7 linked regions of the Homo sapiens genome follow. The protein of the gene in region 1 purifies or fractionates together with the protein of each later gene. This does not show direct contact. Each region holds a gene or a part of one and is shown on either strand. Other genes may lie near its edges.

Region 1 (4,311 bases):
ACACCAGGTAAAGAGCTGGGGTCTCTCCATTCTTTCTTGGTTTCTGGAAAGTGATCAGATGACCTACTTTTGTAAGATCAGGAATGTTGATGGCTCTTTTTCTTTTATATTTTTGTTATTCCCTTTTTTCCATACATACATGATTTCCTTACATATATGATTATTTTGATTTTATACCTAATGCTCTTCAGGAGTTGAAAAAGGATAACAAGGAAAGTGTGTGTGCACGCATGTGTGCATGTGTGTGTGTGTGTATGAAGTTTTTGGGGTTTGTTTGTTTGTTTAAATCAGGTACCTTTCAAATGCTTAGGTCATCCAAGCCATGCAGAGAAGATCTGGTGGCCTTATGCACAGAGATGACACTGTTAACAAAGATCTTTTGGTTGAAGACTATGGAAACCCACCCAAAGTAGTAAGGAAAGAAAGAGAAAAAGAAGGAAAGAAAGAAAAAGGAAGGAAGGAAGGAAGATGGTTTCTCATGGAAGTGGAAAATTATCGGAACCAAGGCATTGTTTTGAGTTCAAGTCAAAGTCAATCTGCTTCTCTCTGCACATCAACAACATTCTGCAGACTGACTTTTAGTGCCTTGGCATGCATGTTGCCAAACATGACCGCCTCACAATTTCTTAGTTTAGAGGGATAATAGGGACTATTTCCTAATCCAAACTTTCAGGAAAGAGAACCTGCTAAGTTGTGTAAAAAACCTAATGGCTGGGTGAGTATAGGAAAATTGCTTAAACTCACATTTGCTTGGTATCCTTATTCTTGCCCTATCACTAAAGCAGGGTCATGTAATAGAAATATGGCTTTGGAGGCCCATCGCTGTGGCAGTTTTCAGAAAGGGAAGATTAAGTGTTGGTAGAGACCACAAATTGTGTCTACTCTAATCCTCTATTAATAGAACATCATGATGATAATAGTAGTTACTAATTATTAAGCCATAATATGCCTAGACACTGTGCCAAGTACATTGTATGTGTGGTCTCATTTATTCCTTAAGTCAAGCTTGCAAGGGATTTATTACATCTATTCTACATATGAGAAACTGGAGAGGCAGAGAGATTAAGAAATGTACCCAAGTTCACGTAGCTTGTAAGTGGCAGAGGGTAGGATTCAAACCCAGATGTGTTTAGTTTCAAATCCAAGTATATCTAGCACTTATATTCATAACATGGCTGGCTTGCAATAATCCATTCAAATTCAAATACATATCTACATACATAACAGATGACAGAATGTGTGTGTAAAAGGTTTTTTCCCAAAAATAATCAGATGCCTTTCAAATTATTAAGTAACATGCAGCTAAGGGCCCATTTTTACTGGCAACTTTAAGGGCATTCGTTGATTCTAATCAGCCAGGATTTGCTATTTATGGATGTTGCACAATTCAACTAAAAGTCACATTTGTCCAAAAAATATACGAGTTGAAGCAATTCATTAGAGAGCTAATATTGCCAGATTGCAAGGGGAAAAACATAAAATAGTTCATTGACAAATCTGTACCCTCAGTGCCAACGATGGAGTGAAGAAATGATGGAGGAGGAAGTGGTTTTAGACTGCCAAGTGTTGCAGGATGTGGAGGCATCTGGGAAGGTGAGAACTTCCCAAAGAAGCCACGTGAAATCATGACTTTCTACCTTGCCTTTATTTCAGAGTTTTTCTTGCTCTTATGGAGGCATTGTAGGTCGACCTGGTAAGCCACAAACTAACTTTGAATACATTCTCCCTCCCATTGGTGATGCTGGTTGGTGTGTATTCCTAGGCAAATGTGGAATAGGAACCATGTATTGATATTTCATACATCTGGCCAAGTCCCTCTTTCAGATTCAAAAAATGTTGAGAACCTATCTTTTTTACAGAGATAGAGAAGGGGATCTCCCTTGTTCCCTTTCTTACTGTCCCAGCCCCTCTTGTATAACCCATTTTATCCAGAACTGTGCCTGGCTGCTGATGCATGAGTCACAGTCTTCATGGACTGTGCTGGATAGAGCTTACATCTTCCAACTACTCCATGGCAACCTAATCATACTTTTCAATACATACCTCTGCATCAGTGGTGTAAAGTTAAAGGGATTCTCTGCCTTCTCCCTGTCCTTCTGGTACTTTTAGGTTTTTAGGACTCAATATATGTTCTGCACTGCTTGGAGGGAATATGGCATAAAGATTAAGATTATGATTTAGAGTCAGATTTGAGTTGAATTCTAATCCCAAGCTTACTTGCTGGGTGAGCATAGACAAACTGCCTGAATTCATATTTTCTTAATTACCCTTTCTGTAAATTGGGTGTAGTAATAATAATAACACCTATTTTATTGAGTTACCATGAGAACTAAAGGAGAAAAAAAGAACTGAGCATAGTGCTTGACATATAGTTAATAAATGTCTAATCTTTTTTTTTTGAGACAGAGTCTCGCTCTGTCCCCCAGGCTGGAGTCCAGTGGCACGATATCGGCTCACAGCAACCTCTGCCTCCTGGGTTCAAGTGATTCTCCTGCCTCAGCCTCCTGAGTAGCTGAGACTACAGGCGTGTGCCACCAAGCCTGGCTAATTTTTTGTGTTTTTAGTAAAGACGGGGTTTCACCGTGTTAGCCAGGATTGTCTCAATCTCCTGACCTCGTAATCCGCCTGCCTCGGTCTCCCAAAGTGTTGGGATTACAGGCGTGAGCCACCGCGCCTGGCCTAATCTTCTTACTCTTTTTTCTTTCTGGACTACTTTTCTGCAATCTATGATATAGTGTTGGCTGATAGCCTGGTGGCCAGAATTCAGTAGTTCTCATTTGCAGGCCCAGATATAGACCCTCTGAGGTTATCTGGGTCTATATAATCCAGTCACCCCAACTGTTCCCCTGGAAATGGAGTGAGGAGGATTTATTAGTTGCTGCCTGAAGAAAAGGGAAATGCTCCAAAAAATTTGGTTGTTTCCAGACTCAAATAGAGCCTGCCTTTCATTGATTCTGTTGCCCTTAAAGCTTCACGGTGAAGATGCAGTTGCTTCCAAAAGGCTTCTTTCTGGTGCCTAAGCCTCCTTATACTTGCTTCAGAGCCCTTTCCGTGAACCAGCTGTGTATTGCTCTTCTCATCCCAACACTTGCAATGGCTGAATAAAGGAAGTGGGGCCTGCCTTACGCTAATCCTCGTTCATATGTGTTTCTTAAAGTTATTTTTCCTTCACTGATGAATTCCTTTTTTTTTTTTTTTTTTTTGAGACAGTCTCGCTCTGTCGCCCAGGCTGGAGTGCAGTGGCACGATCTCAGCTCACAACAAGCTCTGCCTCCCGGGTTCATGCCACTCTCCTGCCTCAGCCTCCTGAGTAGCTGGGACTACAGGCGCCCGCCACCACTCCCGTCTAATTTTTTGTATTTTTAGTAGAGCCGGGGTTTCACTGTGTTAGCCAGGATGGTCTCAATCTCCTGACCTCGTGATCCGCCCACCTCAGCCTCCCAAAGTGCTGGGATTACAGGCGTGAGCCACTGCGCCTGGCCTCACTGATGAATTCTTTTGCTTTTTAAAGAAACTGTTCATTTATTTTCACAGTCTGCAAAAGCCTAAGATAAAGATGCCACACTCTGAAAGGATCAACAAGGGCATCACCAAGTAATGTTTTCTGCAGGATAAACAAGTCAGGCATTAAATTGGTTAATCCTGATTACTGGCCCCTTTCTCTAGCCTCCCCTCTGTGTGAGCAGACCCGGACCACAGGCTTTCTTATTTCCTTTCAGCTTCCCTTGAGACTGAGCAGAGAGAGAAAATTAGCTAAATCAGGAATGCAGGGAATACAGTTGCAGCCTCTTCTTCAGATGGAGGAATGCGTTTTGGGGGGAGGGACATTAAAGGGCCAGTCGCTCATGTTACAGCTCTTTTTAACTTCATGAGTACTAATGCCCTGAAGAGGTTTTAATGAATGCCCTCTTGTGATCAGTTCCTAGGGCAATCCCAGGTTATAAAAGGACTGCCCCTGCCTGTGAGGGAACTGGCCTGGCTTCAGTGGGCCAGGCTGCTTTGTTATCTGTTATTGGTTTTTCCAGCTCCTCTTTCTACATTTCAAGGGATCTCAGGCCTTACCTAAGGCAACAGTACATTAGTTTTAGAGTGGGAGATGCTCACAGTTTTCAGAAGAGTTCAGAAAGTTTCAAAACACACAGCACTGCAGAAGATAACATTATAGCTTCTCAAGACCCCAGGGGATCTGGGACTAAACAGTGAAAGATTAATTAGGTAGCGGAAGCCACTAAGGCAGTGAGTCTTAGTTAGAGAACTTTGGTTTAGACAATGGTTCTCAAAGGGGCAGCAACACCAACAATACCCGGAAAC
Region 2 (3,044 bases), on another chromosome or scaffold:
CAGGACCTTTTTTCGAGGTGATTTTTTTTTGTTTTTTTTTGAGACAGGGTCTTGCCCTGTCGCCCAGGCTGGAGTGCAGTGGCATGATCTCAGCTCACTGCAGCCTCCACCTCCCAGGTTCAAGTGATTCTCATGCCTCAGCCTCCCAAGTAGCTGGGATTACAGGGGTGCACCACCATGCCCAGCTAATTTCTGTATTTTTTGTAGAGATGGGGTTTCATCATGTTGGCCAGGCTGGTCTCGAACTCCTGAACTCAAGTGATCCACCCACCTTGGCCTCCCAAAGTACTGGGATTACAGGCGTGAGCCACCGCGCCTGGCGAGAAGGTGAATTTGAGCTGGGTCTTGGAGAATGGGTAAGATTTGACTGGAGGGTGGGAGGGGGCTTCTCATTGAGGAGATCAGGCCCTCCTGGGGAAGGGACAGATGGGCTGGCGCCAGGCTTACTTTGAGGTGCTCAGAAGGGCCTTCGTCCTGGCCCAGCATGGACCCTGTGGCTTTGCACGACCTTTTCTCCCTGAATCTCTGTCCCATGTGTGTTGCTCAGGGACTCAGGGGAATGATCAGAGTGGGCGAGGCTGGTATGGTGGCCACCTGGGCACAGGGGCCCTTCCTGCCTCTGAGATATCCCTTAAGTCTCTCCCCAGCCCCACTCTCTCCTCTCAGTGACACAGAAATGAGACTCTGAACAAGTCCCTTGCCCAGCGTCATGCAGGGACCTCAAAGAGGCCCTCCAGATAGGAGGGTGGGGACCCGGCCCAGGTGCCCAGGGCAGCACAAGTCAGACACCTGCCTCAGAGCTTTTCTTTGTTTTTATTTTAAAGGAAAAAAACAAAAAAGAACAAAAAAACCAAAAAAAAAACAGTGCAAAAACCCATTTTCCAGTGTCAGCCTTGCCCACCCCCACCCCCAGGCCACCCCAGCTGTGAGCCTGACTCTTCCTCCCACTCAGCACCCCCTCCCCCCTCATGCATCCCCTAGGGGCTGGAGGCTCCACTTCCCTGGAGGGCCAGATCCCAGGAGGAACTGTGGGGTGGAAAAAACGGAGGGGGGGGAACAGCCCCAGATCCACCTGCCCCCCAGGTCTCCAGCCACCGGCACCAGGTGCACCAGGTACTCCTCTTGGCTCTCATTAACCCTCTCCTGGTCATGCTACTAGCTGGGGAGGGGTGGGGGGTACTGATCTGGGGGAACTCCCTCTGCACCCCTCTTTGCCCCGGGGCCGGCTCGGGGCTCTCCTCACTGAGGTTGGGGGGCTCCCTCCCTCCATCATGGGGGAGAGCAGTGAAACCCCCAAGTTTAAATACCTTAATGAAAGCAGGGGCTGGGGAGGAAGGGGCTTTAGATCTAATAAATTATTAGCGTTTTAGTGTCCGTGGGAGTGGGGGTGGGGTGGGGCAGGATGTGGCCTCCAGGGCCCCTCCCTCCCCTTACTGGTGAATCTCATTCTCTATGAGGCTGTCCTCGCAAGACTGGAAGTCTGTGTCCGTGAGGGCGTCGGGTGGCATCAGCAACTCCTCATCTTGGGATGAGGATGATGGGGGCTCATCCCCTGAGCTCCCAGGAGCCCCATCCCCATCCCCGTCCACCTCTGAGTCCTGCAGCACCTGAGCGATGTATTTCTGAAGGAGGAGAGGAAATGGGGGCAAGGTGAACAGCTGCCCCTCATGGATTGCGGGAACACCAGGGCATGTAGGACAGCAGAGTGGGCAGGGCCCTGGGGGGCGGGGGCAGCCCTCCAGGGAGACCAGCTCTCTTCCCGCCCCCATGGGGTCTGGCACAGGTTCCCCTTTCTGCAGGACTAAGGGAACACTGGGCTTTGAGGCTGAGTCTGTCAGAGGCCCCTCCCAACCCTTGAGGGCACTCACCGCAGATTTGGGGACAGCAGCAGCAGTGGGGGGCCGTCCATTGCTTCTGGGGTCCACAGTATCTGTCTCCGTGTGCTCAATCTTGAGGGGCCCAGAATGAGTCAGGAAGTGGGGGCATGTCCTCAGCCCTGATCATGACCCCACGCCCGCTTGGCCCTGTTGGCGCTGCCCTCAGCCCTCGCCAGCCCTGTGGCCCTCTGCATTCCTCCCCTTGAGCTCCTGCCCGCAGCCATCCGCCTGCCACCCTTGCCCCACACCTTGTAGTTGTGGGCACTGAGGTATTTGAAGTGTCCAAAGCAGACGTGGCAGAGACAGATGACGATGGTGATGACCAGGACCACAAATGTGAACATAGACGTGGGAGCTAGGAACCCTGGTGTTGGGGGGCAAAGAATGGGGTTGCTATCTCCTGTGGGCCTCCCCACCCCAGCTTCTGATACCCTCTGAATGCAGTCCTCACTCTCCCAGGTGCTACAGACTGGCCCCAGCCTCTCCCAGGCCCCTTGCCTGCCACCCCCAGCCATGCGGCTTCTCCTGTGGCCTGCTCTGGCTGGAATCCACTCTGCTCGCCACCCCCCGTTCCCTGGGTAGGGATCCCTCACCCGTGCGCATGGTGGAAAAGAAGAGCAGCCAGAAGAGGCAGAGGATGGGCGCGGCCACCACCTGGTTCACAGCCCCCGAGTGGATCTTCTTGTCCAGCTTGGCCGGCAGGTAGGCGTAGTAGAGATTGTACCTGTCTACCAGGTGCTTCAGCAGCATGTACATGAGCCCTAAGGGAAGCCACATGGGCCCTGACCTCGGAACCAGTGCTGCCGAACCTTTTGTGTGTCTGTCACAGGTTGTTCTGGTCCTGAGAGTGCTGAAGGGTTGGCCCCCTCCTCCTGCCCGGGCCCCAGGACGGGATAGTGCCCCGTGCCCCAGCGTGATCACAGAACTTCAGCTTCCTCCGCTACAACCCCTCATTCTACTCTCCTCATCAGGAATTCTACTATTGGAAATCTAGTCATTTGAATCAACAAGCATCTTCTTAAAACCCGTATCATTTTTCTCTAACCCTGTCCCTAAACAGATACGTATAAATTAAGGGACAAGTTCTATTTCCCCAGAGGCTGAGGGATAGGGAGTTTCTAATGAGGACAAGGAAGTTAGTTTGGGAACTTGGAGCCTTCAATAACC
Region 3 (4,311 bases), on another chromosome or scaffold:
GAAGGTTTTGTTTCCTTCTTGGTCATCACAAAATGCCTTGATGTTCCTGACCCTTTTGTGCCTGACCCTACTGGGTGAGTGAGTGAGCCCAGACTAGAGGAGGGAGGGGAGCTCTGGTTTGGGGTCCCTTTCCATCTTTTTTTTTTTTTTTTTTTTTTTTGAGACAGAGTTTCTCTCTTGTTGCCCAGGCTGGAGTGCAGTGACATAATCTCAGCTCACTGCAACCTCTGCCTCCCTGGTTCAAGTGATTCTCCTGCCTTCGCCTCCTGAGTAGCTGGGATTACAAGCACCCACCACCACGCCCGACTAAACTTTGTATTTTTCAGTAAAGACAGGGTTTCACCATCTTGGCCAGGCTGATCTCGAACTCATGACCTCAGGTGATACACCCGCCTCAGCCTCCCAAAGTGCTGGGATTACAGGCGTGAGCCACCGCGCCCGGCCCCTTTTCATCTCTTTGGGGTGCTGATGAGGCAGGGACTCAGGAAGAAGCCTCCCTTCTTTTTAACCCCTCATCACTGATTTCTTACTCCTCTCCCTCCTTTCAGAGCAATTTGTGATCTACCAGGTTGGCTTGATCCCCAGTCAGTACTATGGGGTCCTGGGAAACAAAGACTTGGAAGGGTTTAAGACTCTGACATTCCTGGCTGTCATGCTCATTGTTCTGAACTCCACGGTAAGATCTTTCCCTCTCTCTGTGTCTCTCGTCCTCTCCAGTCCAGTGTGACCGTAATGCCTAGTGGAACTTAGCCTCCAGGAAGCAGGAAGCAAGCTGTGGGGGTGTGTTTCCTCCCTTTTCTGGGAACTAAAGGGATAGTTGCCTTTATTAAGCACGTTGATCTTGCTATTGGCCCACGTGGGACTGATTCCTCAGATGTTTCCACTCCTGGGCCCAGGCCACAGGTTCTGGTTTAATTCAGCATTTAGCAGAACTGATCATTGCCCCTTTCCTTCCTAGAACTCTTATTTCCGGCAGCTCATTAAAACGGCTCAGCAGCCAGAGCTGCTGCTCCTCCTCTGCGGGACCGAGGCTGTGACTCACCCTGGCACCATGTCACACCTCCCAGCCTTTGAACAGTGCTTTCTTGCAGAATGGCCTCCTCCCCTACCCCTCATTCAGTAGGGGGGCTACCACCTGCTCACTCTTCGTCATCCCTCCGTTGTCACCTCTTTCAAGTCTTTCTCAGCTTTCTCCTTTGTGTCTCCTCCACCAAACTCTGCCCTTTTTCTGTACTTAACGAATTCCTTGAGTTTACCTCGCTGTAACACTCCTCACACGCTTGTAATTGTTTTCTGGCTAAACTGTGAGCTCATAATGTCCCTAGTGCTTAGCACATAGGTGCCCTGGAAATGGTAAATGATGAGACTCAGGGCTGTACCAGAACTCAAGCCTAATGCTGTCTGCCAGGCTGTGCCACCTGTTTTCTTGGGGAAGCCACTGCTCATCGTACCATGGCCACTTTTGTTGGGTCTTCGGTCAGTAAGCACCTATGCATACAAATCTCTGTCCCAAGCTTGGGGGACAAAGGAGTAAGAACATAAATGGAATCGACAATATGGTCTCCAATCTTCAGAAGCTCATCTACTCTCAAAATAAGACAGTGTAGAAAGAGGGTCTTGCCTCTGGTAAGCCCTTTAATATTTGGTGAAGGAGGCTGGGTACAGTGGCTCACGCCTGTAATCCCAGCACTTTGAGAGGCCGAGGCGGGCGGATCACCTGAGGTCGGGAGTTCCAGACCAGCCTGACCAAGATGGAGAAACCCCGTCTCTACTAAAAATACAAAATTAGCTGGGCGTGGTGGTGCATGCCTGTAATCCCAGCTACTCGGGAGGCTGAGGCAGGAGAATCGCTTGAAACTGGGAGGCGGAGGTTGTGGTGAGCCAAGATCGCGCCATTGCACTCCAGCCTGGGCAACAAGAGTAAAACTCCATCTCAGAGAAAAAAAATTTGGTGAAGGAATGAACACGTGAGTGAGTGAGGAAGGGAAAGTCCCATGACTCGATGATTTAAAAAAGAAAAGTGCTGAGTGGACGGAGTAATCAGAGTCAGAGTGGGCTGGGATGGGTCAGCGGAGGCTCTTGCGAGCCTTGAGCTTTGAGCTGAGATTTTCAGGAAGCCATCTCTCCCTTCCCCTTGCTTCCCCCACTGCACAGCTGAAGAGCTTTGATCAGTTCACCTGCAACCTGCTGTATGTGAGCTGGAGGAAGGACCTCACTGAGCACCTTCACCGCCTCTACTTCCGGGGCCGTGCGTACTACACCCTCAACGTGCTGCGGGATGACATCGATAACCCGTAGGCGCCCCAACTCAGTCCTTTCTACACTCTGTGTGGTCCTTTCCTTCTGGCCTAGCCCTGGAGACTGCTGGTGGCAGACACCAAGGAGATCATCTGCAGTCGTTTTCAAATGCTGCTGCCCAGAGTCATGGGGGAGGGTGCCCTGCAGAGGACTCCTGGAGAAGCTGCAGGGCTGTGAATAGGCAGCTAAAAAGAAGAAGCCTGCCAGGTGCAGTGGCATGCACCTGTAGTCCCAACAACTCAGGAGGCTGAGGCAGGAGGATCACTTGAGCCCAGGAGTAGTGCACCGTGAGCACACTTGGGAATAGCCACTGTACTCTAGCCTGGGCAACATAGCAGAAACCCCCATCTCTTAAAAAAAAGAAAAATGTTAGGAGCAGCTTTCTTTTGTCCTTTTCATACTTTATATCTTAGTCTTCCAGTAAGAAGACTAAGGGGTTTCTTTAGAGGGTTCTAAAGAAAATGTCCTTGCTAGAAAAACCAGCTCTTAGATTTTCATCAGTAAAAAAAATTACCACTATCCAGGACTCAGTCTAGGATTCACATCTCCATTCTATCACCACTCAGGTTATAACTCTTAAAGTCACCAAGCCCCAGGTTCCCCTTCTGTAAAATGAGGACAATAATAGTTCCTATCTCAAAGGGTGTAGTGAGGATGAAATATCATTCATGTAATGCACATGTACAGTGCTTGACACATAGCAAGTGTTTCAGTGTAAGTTAGCTATTGTTATTTTACAGATGAGGAAGCTGAAGCCCAGAGATTGCAAGTGACTTGCCCAAGGTCACGTCACTCATTGGGAATAGGAATCAGTATGGCCCTAGTGGTGAGATGAGACATAGGGGGTCTCCTTCACACCCATCCCCTCACTCACCACCTTCCTAGCAAGCACTTTGTTGGTTGGGGTACCTCTCAGCTCAAGCTTAGCTTTGGTGCAAAGATGCGTGGGAGGCTGCTGCTGCTGCCTAACTTCTAGGCCTCTTTCTGATGGCTATGGCTTCCATCCTGCCTCTGCCCCCTGAGTAGCTGGGACTACAGGTGTGCCTCACAGCCTGGAGCTTTCACAGCCAGATAACTAAAGGGGCCAGGCTAGGGCTTATATAAGAGAAATTTGGGAGGATTGAGATAAAGGGGATAGTCTTCTTGATCATCCAAAACAGCTCATCTACCTTCAAGTTTTTCTTTGGCTCTGCTCAGAGCTGGCTCAGGCCCCTGGGTACTGGACCTTTCAGTTCCCACTTTTTCAGGGGATTAACTAAGGCACCGTAAGATGCAACTCTCTAGAACCCTGTTTAAAGGCCCTGGGATTTAGTTGCCCCTAGGAAACCAGCCTTGTCTGGTTCCCTCTTCCCATAGGGTCAGTGTTCACAGCACTGTGAGGCAAGGTCAAGAGCAGAGGTGATGTGAAAGTTTCTTGTTCTCTCTACCTTTGGGCCCATCTCCCTGGGTCCAGCTACTCTGTGTCATTGGCTCCAGGGACCAGCGCATCAGCCAGGACGTGGAGCGATTCTGCCGGCAGCTCAGCAGCATGGCCAGCAAGCTCATCATCTCCCCGTTCACCCTCGTCTACTACACTTACCAGTGCTTCCAAAGGTGAAGCCTCCCTCCTCCCCAGCCTGGTGTTTCCCCAGAGGGCCCTCAGTCAGCTCTCCCAGGTCAAGGTCCAAGAGAAGCTTATTTCCCCTCTCTCCCACCGTACCTTACCACGTGCTCACCCATCCCACGTGCTCAGGCCCCTGCCCTTCCTTTGGCCCTGTGTTGCAGTGTCACAGATATCCTGGCTCTGAGAGCTCATACCAGATGCCCCCACATAGGAGCAGAGGGCCCATTGGGCCACTCAGATTGGACAGGGGCTACCTGAGAGGGAACAGGAGTCAGGGCTGAGGCATGTGGGGATAGGTGGCACCCCACACCCTCTCCCTTCTCTCCCTCTCTCTCTATTTCAGCACAGGCTGGCTCGGGCCTGTGAGCATCTTCGGGTATTTCATCCTGGGGACCGTGGTGAACAAAACT
Region 4 (4,311 bases), on another chromosome or scaffold:
TTTTCCATGGGAAATGGTCACAAGAATTCACTAACCCTTTGACCATAGTGCTGTCTTCCAAGAACTTGACTTCTATGAGAAAACTCAGAGTAACGCCCACAGGAACTGCCCTTGGGGAGCCTTCCTTTCTCAGCATTTGCAGACTCTCTGAAGAGCCGCCGTCTTACAGACCCTTGGCCTGGCAGCCCGGCTCTATTCATGTTCTTCTAGCTTGGGAAGTGCAAAATCCTTTCCTTCCTTCCGAATTCGTTTCCTAAGTCTTCACACCCGCAGCAGCCTGCTCTAGCCCTGAGCAAAGTGGAAGTGCTGATCCCACTGCCCACAGGAGGCAGTGCATGGCCCCCAGCCCAGAGGACCCCAGGCTGACCTGGAGGGAGACAGGCCCCAGGAAAGCACAGTCAGTATACCCGGCATGCCCATCTGCACCCAGGGTCAGCGGTGACAGGTGCCTCTGCCCTCCTCCAAGCTCACACCCAGGTGCGCCCTCCCTTGCTGGGAGCCCTCTTCCTGGGAGCTCATCCTGGTGTGACTGCCCGGTCAGATGTGGATGCTGGGAAAGGCCTCTGTAGCTGACTGCACAGCTGTGAGCACCCTCCATGCCTCACAGCACCGACGTGGTGCCTGACCCGGTGGGTAACCAAGCTCTTCTCACAGAAGCCCCGAGACACACATCAGTGTCTCTCATGGGCTTCATGGCAAACGAGACAGAGGAGCTCGAGTGGCTTCCAGCAGCTGCACGGCGGTAACGCCGAGACTCGCCCCGCATGGCAGTGACGCCGAGACTCCCCCTGCATGGAAGTCATGCTGAGACTCAACCCTGCACGGCAGTAATGCTGAGACTCACTCTGCCCGTCTCTGCCCCAAACACAGAGCATGCTCCCGACAGCCCCCAGCAGGGTGTCCTGTGGTGCACAACATTCAGCATGTGAGCGTGGACGCAGGGAAGGAACAGAGCTGCAGCCCCCACAGGCCCTGAGCCAGCACAGGCTCTCATCGAGGAAGGCCCGCTGTCTTTCAGGGCAAGCCCCACCGAGGGCTGCCTGCTTTGAAGTGCAGAGCAGTGACTGTCTCTGGCCATTTGGCAGCATCCTTGCGGGCCCTGAGAGAAGCCAGTCAGGAAGCCACACAGCTGTTGGATGGGAGGGATGCTGGCCACAAGAAACACTACAAGGAGAGAGGCCCAGGACACGCCACTGTTTGCACGTGGTGGGCAGAAGGGAGCCTGGGAAAGTGCTGACTAAAGACAGGCCAGTCTGTGGGGGAGCAGAGGGCGGGGAGGAGGAAGGAAGAGGGTTCCTCCGTGCCCACCCCAGCCCCGGTGGCATCGCTGTCCTGGGAGCAGCCTCGTGCCCGCAACAGCTGCCGTGGAGAGGAAGTGGGATGTCTCACTGCAAATGCTTTGGGAAAAACAAGACAGTGTACTTTGTGATCATATAAAACAGCAAAATAAAATAGTCGTGGGCACAGGGCCAGTGATTCTGCAGTTAGAGCCGTGTGGACTCGGTCCCCATCTCCGGTGAGGGCGTCTCCTGCACACGGCACCCATGCTTCAGGTCGCACACACGTGCCTTGGACCCAAGTTCACCTTTGGAGGTGTCAATCCCCCCAAGAAGATGTGCTAACCTTGGAGTTTGGGGCCTAGGCTTCCATCAGAGTCTTCCCCACAGAAAGCGAACTGGGACTGGTCCCTCAATAAGCTACCGGCCTCTGTTCACAGCAGCACAGGATGAGGATGCCTGGGTCTTGCCAGCCACCACGTTCTATGATCCCAGGACAAACACGATTGCAAAGTTCATGTGTGTTCCCGGCTTACAAATGGGGAGGTTTATTTACGGCCTCTCCGGATCCACGGGGAGCTGCTCCATGGGACGCTGGACAGCTCAGTTCCCTTGAAAGGATGGCTGCACCATCGAGCATGACTCAACCCAAAGATCCAACGCGCAGGGGCCTGGCAGGGACAGCTGTGCTTGGGACGCCGGTGTGCCACTGCCGCTTCTGCGCCGGGAGTCACGCCCCGGCCTCTCCCACTGGGCTCCCAGCCTGAGCTCTGCCCAGCTGGTGTAAGGACAGTAAAGGCAACCAGATGCCCTGACTGCGACCACCACCAATAGTCGCCAAGAGTGCACGCAAGCAGAAATCACAGATGCCCTGGCAGCTGCCTGAGGGACAGGCTTCTCCTCCAGCTTTATCCAAGTTGAGCTGGTCTTCGGCCAGACGACCAAGCTCAGGCCCCAAATTCACCTGGGTTGCTCTGAGGACTGGTGAGACTTAAAGGTCACTTGGACTCCTCCAGTGGCCGGGACACATGTCTCTCTAGTGGACTGGTTGCCTTCCGTGTTGTGAGGACCGGCCAGGCCTGCAGGTTGGTGCCTTCCTCTGGCCTCACTGAGCAGCAACACTCAAGTTCAAACACAAAACCACCATTTATGGTGGAGCCATGGGCTCTGTAGCCCAGCATGACGCACCTGGCAGACCATGTTCACGAGACTAATGCTCCGAGCCACTGACACACACCCAGCTCCCCGCAGCCGCCCTGTGCTTTATGCGCCCACACCAGCACCACTCAGCCCTCACATGGGTGCCAGTATGCTCACAGTCGCCTGCACACAGAGGAGCACACAGTGGGGCCGGGGGTGCTGCCGCGTCCTGCTCTCCCCCAGTCCCAGCGAGCACAGGAGTTAATGACAGAGTGTGGGGCTCAAATGCCCAGGACACACTGTAGCCCTCCACAGCCTCTCAGGGCCTCAGTTTCCACATCTGTAAAATGGCTCAGTGACAGCTGTTACACAGTTGTCATGAGGATGTAACAACTTCACACATGGAGACCCCGAGAACAGCACTCTCAGGAGGACCCGTGCACGATTCATCTTTCAGACTAACAGACGAGCTGAGCGACGGACGAGCTAAGTGATGGATCTGAGAACGGGAGTGATCGGGAAGTGAACAGTTTCATCATCTGCTGCTGCTATTCAATTGTCAGGGTTGAAATAAACGGAAAGCCAGCCTGCCCGTAAACACTGTCATGTATTTCCCACAAGTGTAAAAAGGAAGTGAACAGTATCTTCCAGGTGTGGTGGAGACAGTCCAGACACACCCAAAGCCCACTGCGCCTCCCTGAGAGCTCCCGCGTCCGGGCTGCCCTCATTTGGAGTGGGCAGGAATGCCACACCGCAGCCCTCTCTGCTTCTGCAGGGACGGTCAACTTAGCAATTCAGAAAAGAAACAATGTTGACTCAGAGAGTGGCCTTACTGTACTGTGGACAGTTGGTCCTGGATGGGAGCCAGTCCCAGCCTGGCCGAACGTTTGGCCTTTTTATGCTGAGAATCCAGCCACTGCAGTGACCGGCCCAGGCTCTCTGAGGGCTGGCTGGGTCAAGCTGTGTGTTTTCCATGGAGCCCCAAGTTCCAAGGGGAGGTAGTCACAAAACAGGGTCTAGCAGGTTTGTGGACAGATGTGGAGAAAATGTATTTTCTTATCATAGGCACTAACACTGGAAGGAAAAAAATTTCACCTATAATTTGAAAACGGAGCCCCAGAAAATTAGTAGAACATTAACAAGGCCCAATGCACTTTACTATTTCTTTTGAATATTATACTTTTAATCAACACCCGTCAGTCAGAGCAGAGAGTGCCTCTGTCAGAGTGAAAGGCAAAACTGATACTGTTCTTAACTTATTCCACTTCCAGCTCCCCTTTAAAATTTATTTTAAAACTTTTAAAATGAACCTTTCACTTGGCCAGGGTCAAAATTTACAAGGCGTACACACCAGGTTTGCAGTGAAATCACTGGAATATAAAAACCATGGAAGAGTCCAGAGCATTTCCAACATCAAATACGAAACCCTTAAACAAGCAGCTTTGCATTGGAGAAACAGCTCTCAGTTTTAACCTTAGAAAACAGGGGAAAATGAAGCATGAGGAAACCTGGATGCCTGTCAATCGCTCTGGGGTAAAGCCATAACCTGGGAAGTGCTCAGCATGCCCCAGCTAGCAAGCTTAACGCCCCTTTACTCAGAATCTCAAGAAAGAAGCCATAAGCACTTGCTTCCTAAAAGAGTGTTTTGTTCCTAAATAACAAAGGGAGACGTTCAGCGTTTCTCAAAACGTCTTTAATTAGAGTTTTCCACAGATGTGAAGCTCTCCGGCTCGGGTGAGGGTGTCGTGTGCAGGGCCTGGCACTCGGCTGCCTCTGAGAAAGCCCCGGAGGAGCCTGGCACCAAGTGCCTGCAGACGCCCGGGTGAAAACAAGCATCTGCACAGGTGCGGGCACAGGAGAGGGCTGCGGAGCCAGCACGGAAGACGGCCCTCAG
Region 5 (3,190 bases), on another chromosome or scaffold:
AGTAATTGGAAATGGTGGAGGTAAGTGTTGATTTCTAGGTTGCTCACAACATGGCTACAATATTTCATCATGTTTGGATGCTGTGTGGCTCTGCCCAACATTAAGCATGGCTTTCCTAAACTAAGTAATATTGGCTTTACTCTGACCAAGGAGAAATTCTTTAATGGATTTAAATGAGATCCTTTATACATAGATCTCTAGCTTTGCATTAATCTGAGCTTACGCTTTAACAAGTTATGAATCTCTCATTACTAGTTGCTTTTCTTGTGGAAAAAGAGGCATATTAATTTTTTAGTTGATGATGACATTGTGTGTCCTTGTCATCTCATTGTCCACAATGAGCTGAACAATCTTAGTAGAATTGTTTGGCATATTCTGCTTATAATTTACCCTCAGAGCAGAGGGAATAGCTATCTTCAATGAACACTCGTCAATAAACAGTGAGTGCCACTACCCCTCGGTGCCTCAGAGGCTCTCTGCTATTTCCCAGTCAGTTCTGTCAGGGCCCCACCCTTTCAGTCTACATATTATGATTAAGACATTTTCCGTGCCTGTCATGGTGCTGTCTGGTGGAGGATAATTTGGTGTATTCTATTCTTAACTTCTTTTTGGTCCTTATCTTCTGGTTCCCCCCTACATTACAGTGTATATCTAATTGCTTTTCTCCCCCCGTGTTTTCTTTTCAGCTCTTTGCCTTCCCACCTAAACATCAGTTATGAGGACTTTTTCTCTGCCCTTCGTCAATATGCAGCCTGTGAACAGCGTCTGGGAAAGTAGTGGTCATTGGTTGCATAATTTGATTTGAGGCTTGTGGAGGAAAGGAACCAAGTGACTCTGATGTTTACAAAGCACCTATGAAACCCTGTACACACCTAGTTCATAATCCTCATAATTTATCAACAAACACAAAAAAGTGTCTTACTTGAGAGTGAGTGTGTGTGTGTGCGTGTGCACGTGCACACATGTGCACGTTTGTATGTATGGAAATAAACTTATAAATGGGGACGTATTGGAGAAGGAAATACATAGACCTACAACTTTGAGCAAATAGCAGTGATGTTTTAGGAACTGAAATGTCACACTTAAAGTCTTCAGCCCAGCTACTTCCCTATTTTTGTGGGGAGAAGAGGGCCTGATTAGAACTGTTCTGGTTGTGTTTGGCGGGAGGGGAATAATTTTTGTTCAGTCCTTCTTAGTGACCAAACTTTAATTTTTAAGAATAATATATTGACTTACTGAACTGAAGCATTCTGAGTTGAAAGGAGCTCCAGAGGAGTGGAGTTCTGTGTTGCTCACATGTTAAAATCTTGCTCACCTTCAGAGCAGAGGGAATACCTATCTTCAGATATCCGTCCATTTTCATCTCTTAATTGTAGTCAAAAGTATGACTTGAGAGTGTTGCTCTGGTATTCTGGGTTCTGAAGTCTGGTATTCTGGTATTCTGGGTTCAAAAGTATGACTTGAGAGTGTTGCTCTGGTATTCTGAGAGTTGCTCTGTATTCTGGGTTCTGAAGATTATTTGAAAAATAACTCCTACTACATTGAAATGCAGACTTAAAAATTTAAACATTGGATTAGGCAGTCAAAAAAACCAAGCAAGCATAAAAGGTCAATAAGTTGTAATCTTGATAGTAAAGGTGGAAAACTTATTATAAATGGAAAGAAAGTTTTATTTCCTTTTTTGTTTGATGGGCAGTATGCCATATTATACCCAAAGTTCTTTTAAAAAATATTTCCATCAACCATTTTTATTTAAAATAAACATTTGAGGGAAGTTACCAAGGCAGCTTTTTTCCTCAAAAGTAACCTGTTCCTCTTTGGAATAGCACATTTTAGGGGCATGGTTAATACCTGAGATTTTTACTCAGTAAATCCTGATGGTTACTGTGTGTAAAATATCTTTAAGTAGGATTGAAGGCCTCTGTGGGGGAATAAAATATTACCAAAGTCTATAAAAATAAATTTTACATGTTCTCTTTTATGACAGAGAGCAGCACTGGTTCTGTTATTTTTAAAATGAATAATTGATTTCTTGATAGGTGTTTAATATTTCTTCCCTCACTGCTGATTCTTAGATAGAAACCATTCTTTATATTTGATAGACTGCTTTCAGAAAACCCTTATCAACAAGTGTACAATACTTATCTAAAACTATACATTTAGAATGGAGCAGTTTAATACTAGATCTCAGAAGTTTTGAAAAATAGCAAAGAAGACTGGATTTGGAAAGCATGGTCTACAATTGGTTGTTAAATTCTGAAGCTATGAAGAATAAATGTTTCAACTTTGGATTATGAAACCCCATTTATGATTTTTTAAATACACTTGAAATAAAAATGATTAAACTAAATTTTGGTCCAGTGACATTACTTTGCACTGCATAATCCATTATACGTTGTACGACTTTTTTTTTTTGTTTTAATTTATTACTGAGAGTTTTGTGTGAAGCTACAGCATATCTAACCAGAGAATTTCTGATTCCTTATACTGTGATTATATTATATTGAGGCATTTGTAGTGCAGCTGAAGACTGAATTTATGCCTTTTGTAAACATGATAGGTATAAATGTCTTATAAACATTCTGGAGTATGTATAGCTTTAATGAATGAAATTTAATGGACCTGATTAAAATGAAGGGATTTAATCGTTGTTAAAGTTAAGTTAGTCAAATAAATTACCTACTGGAATATAGCCCAAGCCAGTAAAGGTTTAATATTTGCATTTTCGTGCTTTTATTTTCTCCTTCCATTCATAAGTATATACTTGAAAGTACATCTGTAGCCTATGATTTGAGTCTCTTGAAGTTCTAGGAAGAGGCAAACTACAAACTACTAGGATTCTGATTTCAGATGTAGTCATTCCAGAACCTTCTCTTTATGAGTTCACCTGCTAGTACAATCTCCACAACTTGAATGGCATTGGTTGTTCTGTAATTCCTGCCAAAAGCATCACAAGTTGTACATCATCAAGGCTCCCTTTGCACTCCCAAGAAGAACTGGTAATTTTAAACAAAAGTATGTGTCTTTATTTGTATTGGAAAATACTGTCTTTAAATTGTTTCTTGTTGACACTCCCCACAATGGAAAAATTACCGAATTAAACCTGTTTTATGGATGGCAGCTTGGAGCATAGCAAGAAGTTGGAGGATTTGAATTCCATTCCCAGTTCTCATTGTGTTTTGTTTCTTAA
Region 6 (4,311 bases), on another chromosome or scaffold:
TAGGCGCTCCACAGGTTTTCTGCAGGGGTAGCTGTGTCACCACCACAGCTGCCCCCCACTACCCCAGGTAGTTTGGGGCAGCCTAGCCAGAGGCGCAGATGCAGGGCAACTTTGGGGACTCAGGGAACAGCTTCAGCCCAATGACTGCAGCGTCAGCCACAGGGCTACCCTGACCACAGAGAAGGAGCTGCCCAGCTAGAAGTCGACAGACAAAGGTGGCTGAACCACCGTCACCCAGAGCCCGCCACTGCCCGCCTTCCACAGAGGCCTTTATGGATCCTGTGGGAACATCCCCAGGCAGTGTCAGGGGCTGGTGGCTGGGGAAGACAGGCTGCTGCAGGCCTTGGACGCTGGCCAGACAGGCTCCACTCACTCCAAACTCGGCTGCCAGGAGCCAGGCTGGGAGGACACTGGGGGGCTGGGAAGGCGGCCAGTCCTGCCCCCGTTCCCAAGCTGGCCACACAAGGACAGCTCTGTGCTCTGTGCCCCTGCTCAGCCTGTGGGCTCAAGAGCAAGACGACGGGAGGGAGGACCCACCCTGGAGCACACCAGCAGCTGCCCCGGGGATGCCAGGGATCTCGGTCACATTGTTGAGCATGAAGTAGGGGTCACAGGAGTCGGTCGTAAGGTTGGGGCTGTGGCAGAAGAAACTCCATAGCTGGGTGGCCACTGTCTCATTGTCCACTACAGCTGTCTTGGCACAGATGTCAAACTGGTCCCGGGACAGGGTCCTGTTGCCCAGCATGCATACCCTGTGAGGGACAGAAGCACCGGCACCTGCTCAGGTCAAAGCCCCTGCCTGTGCCCACCCTGCAGTCTCTGGGATCTGGGGCATCAAAGGCTGGCTACATGGGAGGGATGTCCATGCAATGCCCAGATAAATTCCTGGGTTACTTACGGAAACACGGGAGGGTCAAATATAGACTTTATGCCCCCAGCATAGATGGAGAGGATGGAGATGATCACACAGGCCAGGAAGAGCGAGGCAAATTTGTTCACATACTTGACCCCCACAAACACCACCAGGGTCATGAAGGTCAGGAAAATGGTCCCATACACACGCATATTGTTCAAAGTGGCATTCGACGTGTCATGAGCACCCGATGGGTAAAAAATGGCAGCTGGTGGGGCAATGTAGGTCTGAAACAAGAAGATGGATAAGGAGGGTTTTATTTCTTATTTGGAAAGTGAAACTTGTCGTTTTGGTTTTCTTTTTACGAGTACCTAAAAGAGGCCGGGCGCAGTGGCTCACGCCTGTAATCCCAGCACTTTGGGAGGCTGAGGTGGGGGATCACTTGAGGTCAGGAGATCATGACTAGCCTGGCCAACATGGGGAAACGCCATCTCTACTAAAAATTAGCCGGGCGTGGTGGCACGTGCCTGTAATCCCAGCAACTGGAGGCTGAGGCAGGAGGATCGCCTGAATCCAGGAAGCAGAGGTTGCAGTGAGCAGAGATCGCACCACTGCACTCCAGCCTGGGTGACAGAGGGGGACTCCGTCTCAAAAAAAAATAAAAAATAGGTCAGCGCCGTGGCTCACGCCTGTAATCCCAGCACTTTGGGAGGCTGAGGCGGTGGATCACTTGAGGTCAGGAGTTTGAGACCAGCCTGGCCAACATGGTGAAACCTCATCTCTACTAAAAATACAAAAATTAGTGGTGCAAAAACTGGTAGTAGTGGCACACGCCTGTAATCCCAGCTACTCGGGAGGCTGAGGCAGGAGAATCACTTCAGTCTCGGAGGTGGTGGTTGCAGTGAGTAGAGACCACACCACGGCACTCCAGTCTGGGTGACAGAGTGAGACCTTGTCTCAAAAAAATAAATGAATAGGCCGGGCGCAATGGCTCATGCCTATAATCCCAGCACTCTGGGAGGCCGACTGCCTGAGCTCAAGAGTTCGAGACAACCCCAGGCAACTTGGTGAAACCTCATCTCTACTAAAATACAAAAAATTAGCTGGGCGTGGTGGCATGAGCCTGTAATCCCAGCTACTCGGGAGGCTGAGGCAGGAGAATCACTTGAACCCAGGAGGCGGAAATTGCAGTGAGCTGTGATCATGCCACTGCACTCCAGCTTGGGCGACAGAGTGAGACTGCATCTCAAAACAAATAAATAAATAAAAATAAAAAATAAGAGTACCTAAAAGAAGCCAGTCACAAAAGGTCACATATTATATGATTCTGTTTATATGAGATGCCCAGAATAGGCAAATCCCAAGGCAGAAAGCAGATTCCTGGTTGCCAGGGCTGGCGGGGAATGGAGAGTGACTGCTAATGGGGGTTCTTGGGATGATGAAAATGTTCTAGAATTGACTGCGCAACTCTGTGAATATACTATAAAACATTGAATTGTACACTTTCAATGGTATATAAATTGGTATGGGAATTGCATGGTATGTAAATTATATGTTAATAAAGCTGTTACTTAAAAACAAGCAAACAAAAAGGATCCAAACATAGATGCCAACCTGAATCGTTAAATAGCCAAAGTGGAACAGTTTGAGCAAGAAAATAAATAATGATAGTATTGGATTACAACCCAAAGAATAAAGTAAATATCCAGAAGTCCATACAGATATAATGACATGGCTGAATAGATAAACAGGAGAAGGGACAAATCCCACATAATGAATGTAGAAGGGATATGAGAAATGAAAACAAGCCAAAGCCCCCCCAAATCAGAAGATTCAGGTGCAGGGTCCTGCTGCAGGTAGAGGACCTGGAGACAAGAACAGCCAGGCAGTCCCTCCAGGTATCTCCTACCCTCTGGATCCCCAGGGGCGGGCACCTGTCACCCCATGCCTCCCGCAGCTCCTTGCCTCTTCTCCCACTGGTACGGCAGTTCACTGGGGAATGAGAAGCTGAGGCTGACAGAGCTCCCATGGGGCTCGTGGAGGGAGCGCCGACCTCCAGCAGGGTTCTGTGGCTGCTTACCCTGATTGAAGGACAAGGAGAAGGTGGATCTGAAGTGCCCTGGCACAGAGCCCCGGAGGACACAGAGCTGGCCAGAGCTCACACAAGCCCAGAAGGAAGCCTACATCACCACCAAGATCTGTCACTGAGCTGAATACAACAGTTCCTGGAACCCTTGCCATGGCTGCAATGGTGCCCAGGTGGATGGAACATCCAGGGCCGAGGTGAAGGCAGCCAGGCCTCTGCCTTGCCTGGCCCAAACTGGCATGGAGGTGAAAGGAAGACCAGCCTGAGTAAAGGTCTTTGTCTCTCGAAGAGGCTTCCTACTTTATAATACCCAGGCCTTGGCCAGACATGTGGGGATGAACAGCCTGAGCCTTCTGTTTGGAGTCCAAAGGGACTGTTTGGACATGGCCAGAGTTGGCCAGGGCTCAGCCTGACTCACCAGCAAGATCTCGATGGCCCCCAGGATGTACATGGCTGCTGCGAATGTTGTTCCCAGGTAGAAGCACAGGCCCACAGCACCTCCAAATTCTGGCCCCAGTGAACGAGAGATCATGAAATAGGAGCCCCCAGCTACAGCAGAGAAATGAAAGTGTGCACAGGTCAAGGCTGGTTCTTCTTCAAGGGGTCTCCCTGTGACAAGCCTGCACAACCACCCAGAGGGACAGGGACTGCTTTTCCTGTTTGTGGATGAGTAGAGGGGCTGGGAGACCTACCCAGGGCTGCACGGTGGGTAAGCATCTAGGCTGACATTCGATCCTATCCCCATCTGACTCGAATGTCCAGCACGGCCCGTGGAAATAACTGCTTTGCGGGAGCAGCTCTAGTCTGCAGCAGTGGCTGACTGGCCACCATCCTCCAATGCCCTGTGCACAGCCCACAGCCTCCTCTGGCTGGGTGTGTCCTATCTCAGCCCACCTCACCCTCCTGAGGCCTGTGCCTTTGTTAGTCTGACTCCTCCAGACCAGAGGAGGGACTGTCTCATCCAGCCTTTTGGCCCTAAGGCCCCGCACAGTGCCTGCCACCAGGTGAGTGTCCACGGCTCCCTGCCCTGAATCTGTGCTTCTATCAAAGTCTAACACCCTTAAAAGACTCAGAGAGTCATGACCAGGCCCCAGGGTGACAAGCACAGGGGGACAAGAGTCATCTCATGTTGCTGGTTGTATCTGCTGCTGAGACAATGTCTCTGGTGAAAATCTGGGAACAGGGATCAAGAAATTCTTTCAAAGAGTCAATCTTGGCTGGGCGTGGTGGCTCATGCCTGTAAGCCCAGCATTTTGGGAGGCTGGGGTGAGTGGATTGCTTGAGCTCAGGAGTTCCAGACCAGTCTGGGCAACATGGCGAGACCCCGTCTCTACTAAAAAAAGGAAATGATAAAAATATACATTTTTAAAAA
Region 7 (4,311 bases), on another chromosome or scaffold:
CATGTTATTCAAAACAGGAAGCATGCTTTCTGAATCATTAAAGAGAATAATTAGAAAAATATATCCTGTATAGAAAAGATAGAAAATAATTTATACAGCATGGAAATCACCTTTACTTAAAAGATTGAAAGAACTTTTAAAATTGTCTTTACTTGGCATATTTCTTGCAAGAAATTTCTTCACAGTGTTTTCAGTCTTTTCTAAATTATCTTGACTTTTATTCTTACCTTACTGAATGTGTTAATCATGAATGGATAACGCATTATAACAAGTACCTTTTTAGGTACAAGATGATATTTTGATGGAAACTTACTCTTCTTGAACATGATGACATTGATGACCTAACACTGAACCATGTTTGCATAACTAAAATAAATCCCACTGGGACTTAGTATATTATTCTTTATAGATTTGATTTACTAGCATTTTAATATTTACAGCTATATAAAAAGATTTGTCTGAGGTTTTCTTTTATGTTTACTGTGGTAGGTTTTAGTGTCAGGGCTAGCACTGTGAAACAATTGAGAAACTCTCTATCTTTCACTTCTTCATATATTCATTGGTTGGGTTCTGGAGCCAGGAAAGGGGGAAGAAATTTTAGTTGTTCTTCTCCTACTTCACTCACCTAGGACTCTGACTAAAATCAATAGTACTATAATTAAATTATATAGTTTACTGCTTAGCTAGGTTTTTTGGGGGACTAGCTTGGGAACCAAATTACCATCTCAGGCCATTTTTTTCCTTTATGAAATATCCTTAGCAAATTCTAAATAATTAATTAAAAGATATGTATTAATTAATTAAAAGATTTCTGTGTATTTCTCTCTCCCATCTTCTTCTTTCACTGCCAGCATGATCAGGTGGCTGTGTATTATACCCTGGCAGCCACCCAGCTAGTGAATTCATTTTGGCTTCTGTTACCTGGTGTTTAATCTGAGTATTTTAAATGCTAAATCTTATTAGTAAACCTGTTGAAAGCTTGGCTCTAGAAACAAAGCCTAACTCATACACTTCTGGTGAGACTTTGATACAACTTTCTGTGTGGCAATTAGGCAATTCTTTACATCATCTGTTTTTTTTTTTTTTTTTGACCCAGCACTTCTGTTCATAGAAGATAAGCTGAAAGAAATCATTGCAGATATATGGGAAGATTTAGTTCCAGTGATGCACAGTTGAAGCATCTTTTATAAATGTAAAGATGTGTAAACAACTTGAATGCTCAGCAGTAGGGAATTAGTTAAATGAATATAGATAATTTAGTAATGGAACATTAAGTAACCATAGAATGTTACTGATAAATATATGTGTGACAGTGAAAGTTGTCTGTCATATATTAAGTGAAAAAAACATTTTACAAAACTTAAAGGCCCCATAAAATCCCATTTTGAAAAATAGGTTTGTAAATGCACGCACACAGCCTGGAATTACACATACTGAAGTAAAGGTAGTGGTGATCTCTTGGGGGCATGAGATTATGGGTAACTGTTTTCTTCTTTTCTGTTAGTGTTATCAGGTTTTCTGGAATGAACATATGTTACTACTGAAATAAGGAAAAAAATCACCCTTTTTTTTAAAAAACAAATGCCAGCACACATACAATATGTAGAAATTAAGAAGTAATGCATAACTAGAAAATCATTCCAAATAAAATGATATGAACATTGAGTTTTTAATTGTGTAGTGCCTACTATCTCTGGGGACACTAAGTCTTAAGCAGAGAAACCAAACCAAATGCAGATCTCCTAGAATCCTCATCTAGAAAGATCCAAGTCTGTTCTTATCACATCTATTTTCAAAAAAAATATTTTGCCCTCGTCATGCTTGAAAGGAGTTCTTTAACTTAAAAATTTTATGTGTTCTAATTATTTCTGTTGGGTTATTTGACAGACCGCCTGGACATTAGGGCAGCCCGGATTCTTCTGGATAATGACCATTACGCCATGGAAAAATTGAAGAAAAGAGTACTGGAATACTTGGCTGTCAGACAGCTCAAAAATAACCTGAAGGGCCCAATCCTATGCTTTGTTGGCCCTCCTGGAGTTGGTAAAACAAGTGTGGGAAGATCAGTGGCCAAGACTCTAGGTCGAGAGTTCCACAGGATTGCACTTGGAGGAGTATGTGATCAGTCTGACATTCGAGGACACAGGTAGAACACTTCTCTCAGTTTAATCTCTGATTCCTCTTTCTTTTTAATTGACTAGAGCTCCCTAAAAGCTTAGGCATAGCATACATCTATTTTCCTTAAAGGGCTATGTGTGGTACCTTGAATGAAAAGGACATTTACAAGAAGTATCAGCTAGCCTAGAGCCTCTAAGCGTAATGATAAACCCAAACTAACCTTGATTTGTATGACAGTGGATACTACTCTGTGCCTCAACTTTCCTGGAATCTCATTTGAATGTAATTATAAGTTATTTATGATTGGATATTATTATGTCTTTACACTCTTTTCAACCCAGTAGCATGCCATAAATAATGATCCCTAACTCTCAGAGTTAAAAAAAGTAACTGCAATAGGGAGGGCCAATAGGAGGAGGTGAGAAGTCTTTGATAACAAACTTGTTCTGATTGCAGTCTAAACTTCCTCTTATGAAGGTTGGTTTGTATTATGAATATGAGTAATAAGGATAAATGTTAGCATAATTATTAAGGCTTATTCTTGCATTTTGGACTCACTTTCTATAAAAAAACAATAAACTGTAAGAACTGTCCCTCTAGGCTGGGCACAGTGGCTCATGCCTGTAATCCTAACACTTTGGGAGGCTGAGGTGGGTGGATTGTTTGAGCCTAACAGTTTGAGACCAGCCGGGGCAACATAGGGAAACACTTTTGTCTCTACAAAATTTATATTTAAATTTTTTAATTTTAAATTTTAATTTTTGTCTCCACAAAAATTAAAAAATTATGCAGGCACAGTGGCATGCACCTGTGGTCCCAGCTACTCAGGAGGCTGAGATGGGAGAATCATTTAGGCCTGGGAAGGTCCAGGCTGCAGTAAGCCATGATTGTCCCACTGCACGCCAGCCTGGAGACAGAGACATTATCTCAAACAAACAAACAAACAAACAACAACAAAACTGTTTCTGATTAATCTGACATTATTAGAATCAGATTTGCATGTTGCATTCATTGTTCTCACTGGTCTCTTTGTTGATCTGATGGAAATTGCCTTGGGAAAGCATGAATTTACATTTCGTGGTTTAAGGGATTCATAGCAATTGTAAGTTGTGAGAAAACATACCTATAGTGTATGTGTTAAAGAACATGTTTAAATGTAGGAACCATGAACTGCTTATAAAAGAATATGATGCTTTTTTAATATCTTGTTTTCTATGTGCCTTATTCAAAGGGATCCCTATCCATAGACAGGGATGGGAAACTGTTTCAGAAACTTTTCTATAAGAAATGGTTATTTTTATTCTCTTTTATTTGCTCACTTAAAATTCTTACGCATTTAAAAAGTATCATTACTGGCCTTGTGTAGTAGCTCATGCCTGTAATCCCAGCACTTTGGGAGGCCAAGGCAGGCAGTTGCTTGAGCTCAGGAGTTCAAGAACAGCCTGGGCAACTTGGTGACACCCCATCTCTAAAAAAATAATAATAATAAATTTTAAAAAAGACTCATCACAAGATTTTAGTAAATAAACAATGAGGCGTGCAGATCAGAGTAGAGAATTGATTTGGGTGATTTCTTCTGGCAATTTCAAAAGATATTTTTGTTGCCTAGACTTCTTATTCTTGCATGTACCACTAGAGGCTATAGTTTGCTTTCGTAAAGGAATTGGCATTTCTCTTGGACCAAACTCAAAGAAGCTGCGTCTAGGGCCTAAATCTTCTAATTTTAGCTACAGAGTAAGTATTTGATGGCATTTAGAGAGTGAGTTCGTGGAATTAATGCTATGTGAAATTGACATCATAAGCACGTGACATGTAGGTAATTTGTTCTTATTTCTTTTCACATTGGTATTGATTATTTGATAAGGCTTGGAAAGCACTTATTCAATACCTGACACACAGTGAGCATTCACTAAAAATTAGCTTTAACCATTATTTAAATTCTATTAATAAATTCTCAGGAGGACAAATTTAGATTTACAAGCTTCAGTATGAGTTTTTATAAATTTCAATCTGATTTTTTAATTGCCTTCTAAAATATTTATCCTATTCTCAGCATTATTACTTAATTTATACGGCAGAATTATGGGAAAATGCATTTTTCTGTTGCCTACTAATGGACAGTGTATAGTGTCATGGTTCTCACCACTTACAAACATCACTGGATTAAAATAAATCTCTATTTTAAATCCTTAC

Evidence for each region.
Region 2: the proteins of PCDHA3 (region 1) and TMEM63B purify together in Homo sapiens (affinity purification with mass spectrometry; 2 studies listed by BioGRID and IntAct, with this or other methods). This does not show direct contact.
Region 3: the proteins of PCDHA3 (region 1) and ABCD4 purify together in Homo sapiens (affinity purification with mass spectrometry; 2 studies listed by BioGRID and IntAct, with this or other methods). This does not show direct contact.
Region 4: the proteins of PCDHA3 (region 1) and GAS6 purify together in Homo sapiens (affinity purification with mass spectrometry; 2 studies listed by BioGRID and IntAct, with this or other methods). This does not show direct contact.
Region 5: the proteins of PCDHA3 (region 1) and NUS1 purify together in Homo sapiens (affinity purification with mass spectrometry; 2 studies listed by BioGRID and IntAct, with this or other methods). This does not show direct contact.
Region 6: the proteins of PCDHA3 (region 1) and SLC12A4 purify together in Homo sapiens (affinity purification with mass spectrometry; 2 studies listed by BioGRID and IntAct, with this or other methods). This does not show direct contact.
Region 7: the proteins of PCDHA3 (region 1) and LONP2 purify together in Homo sapiens (co-immunoprecipitation; 2 studies listed by BioGRID and IntAct, with this or other methods). This does not show direct contact.

The regions. Positions count from the first base shown.
Region 1 is NC_000005.10:140,982,557-140,986,867, forward strand, and holds part of PCDHA3 (protocadherin alpha-3 isoform 1 precursor), read left to right. Parts: coding exon 1-7; intron 8-4,311. Other genes in the region: PCDHA1 (protocadherin alpha-1 isoform 1 precursor), read left to right, coding at 1-7; PCDHA2 (protocadherin alpha-2 isoform 1 precursor), read left to right, coding at 1-7; PCDHA4 (protocadherin alpha-4 isoform 1 precursor), read left to right, coding at 1-7; PCDHA5 (protocadherin alpha-5 isoform 1 precursor), read left to right, coding at 1-7; PCDHA6 (protocadherin alpha-6 isoform 1 precursor), read left to right, coding at 1-7; PCDHA7 (protocadherin alpha-7 isoform 1 precursor), read left to right, coding at 1-7; PCDHA8 (protocadherin alpha-8 isoform 1 precursor), read left to right, coding at 1-7; PCDHA9 (protocadherin alpha-9 isoform 1 precursor), read left to right, coding at 1-7; PCDHA10 (protocadherin alpha-10 isoform 1 precursor), read left to right, coding at 1-7; PCDHA11 (protocadherin alpha-11 isoform 1 precursor), read left to right, coding at 1-7; and 4 more. UniProt on the Homo sapiens protein: Potential calcium-dependent cell-adhesion protein. May be involved in the establishment and maintenance of specific neuronal connections in the brain.
Region 2 is NC_000006.12:44,153,270-44,156,313, reverse strand, and holds the end of TMEM63B (mechanosensitive cation channel TMEM63B), read right to left. Parts: intron 2,639-3,044; coding exon 2,471-2,638; exon of another isoform or gene 2,337-2,470; intron 2,242-2,336; coding exon 2,126-2,241; intron 1,950-2,125; coding exon 1,869-1,949; intron 1,623-1,868; coding exon 1,431-1,622; 3' UTR 795-1,430; downstream 1-794. UniProt on the Homo sapiens protein: Mechanosensitive cation channel with low conductance and high activation threshold. Osmosensitive cation channel preferentially activated by hypotonic stress.
Region 3 is NC_000014.9:74,295,913-74,300,223, reverse strand, and holds part of ABCD4 (lysosomal cobalamin transporter ABCD4), read left to right. Parts: coding exon 1-74; intron 75-548; coding exon 549-676; intron 677-2,154; coding exon 2,155-2,294; intron 2,295-3,774; coding exon 3,775-3,891; intron 3,892-4,244; coding exon 4,245-4,311. UniProt on the Homo sapiens protein: Lysosomal membrane protein that transports cobalamin (Vitamin B12) from the lysosomal lumen to the cytosol in an ATP-dependent manner. Targeted by LMBRD1 lysosomal chaperone from the endoplasmic reticulum to the lysosomal membrane.
Region 4 is NC_000013.11:113,853,654-113,857,964, forward strand, and holds part of GAS6 (growth arrest-specific protein 6 precursor), read right to left. Parts: intron 1-4,311. UniProt on the Homo sapiens protein: Ligand for tyrosine-protein kinase receptors AXL, TYRO3 and MER whose signaling is implicated in cell growth and survival, cell adhesion and cell migration.
Region 5 is NC_000006.12:117,706,239-117,709,428, forward strand, and holds part of NUS1 (dehydrodolichyl diphosphate synthase complex subunit NUS1), read left to right. Parts: intron 1-686; coding exon 687-777; 3' UTR 778-3,190. UniProt on the Homo sapiens protein: With DHDDS, forms the dehydrodolichyl diphosphate synthase (DDS) complex, an essential component of the dolichol monophosphate (Dol-P) biosynthetic machinery.
Region 6 is NC_000016.10:67,951,286-67,955,596, forward strand, and holds part of SLC12A4 (solute carrier family 12 member 4), read right to left. Parts: intron 3,489-4,311; coding exon 3,358-3,488; intron 1,141-3,357; coding exon 899-1,140; intron 753-898; coding exon 538-752; intron 20-537; coding exon 1-19. UniProt on the Homo sapiens protein: Mediates electroneutral potassium-chloride cotransport when activated by cell swelling. May contribute to cell volume homeostasis in single cells. May be involved in the regulation of basolateral Cl(-) exit in NaCl absorbing epithelia.
Region 7 is NC_000016.10:48,268,129-48,272,439, forward strand, and holds part of LONP2 (lon protease homolog 2, peroxisomal), read left to right. Parts: intron 1-1,887; coding exon 1,888-2,146; intron 2,147-4,311. UniProt on the Homo sapiens protein: ATP-dependent serine protease that mediates the selective degradation of misfolded and unassembled polypeptides in the peroxisomal matrix.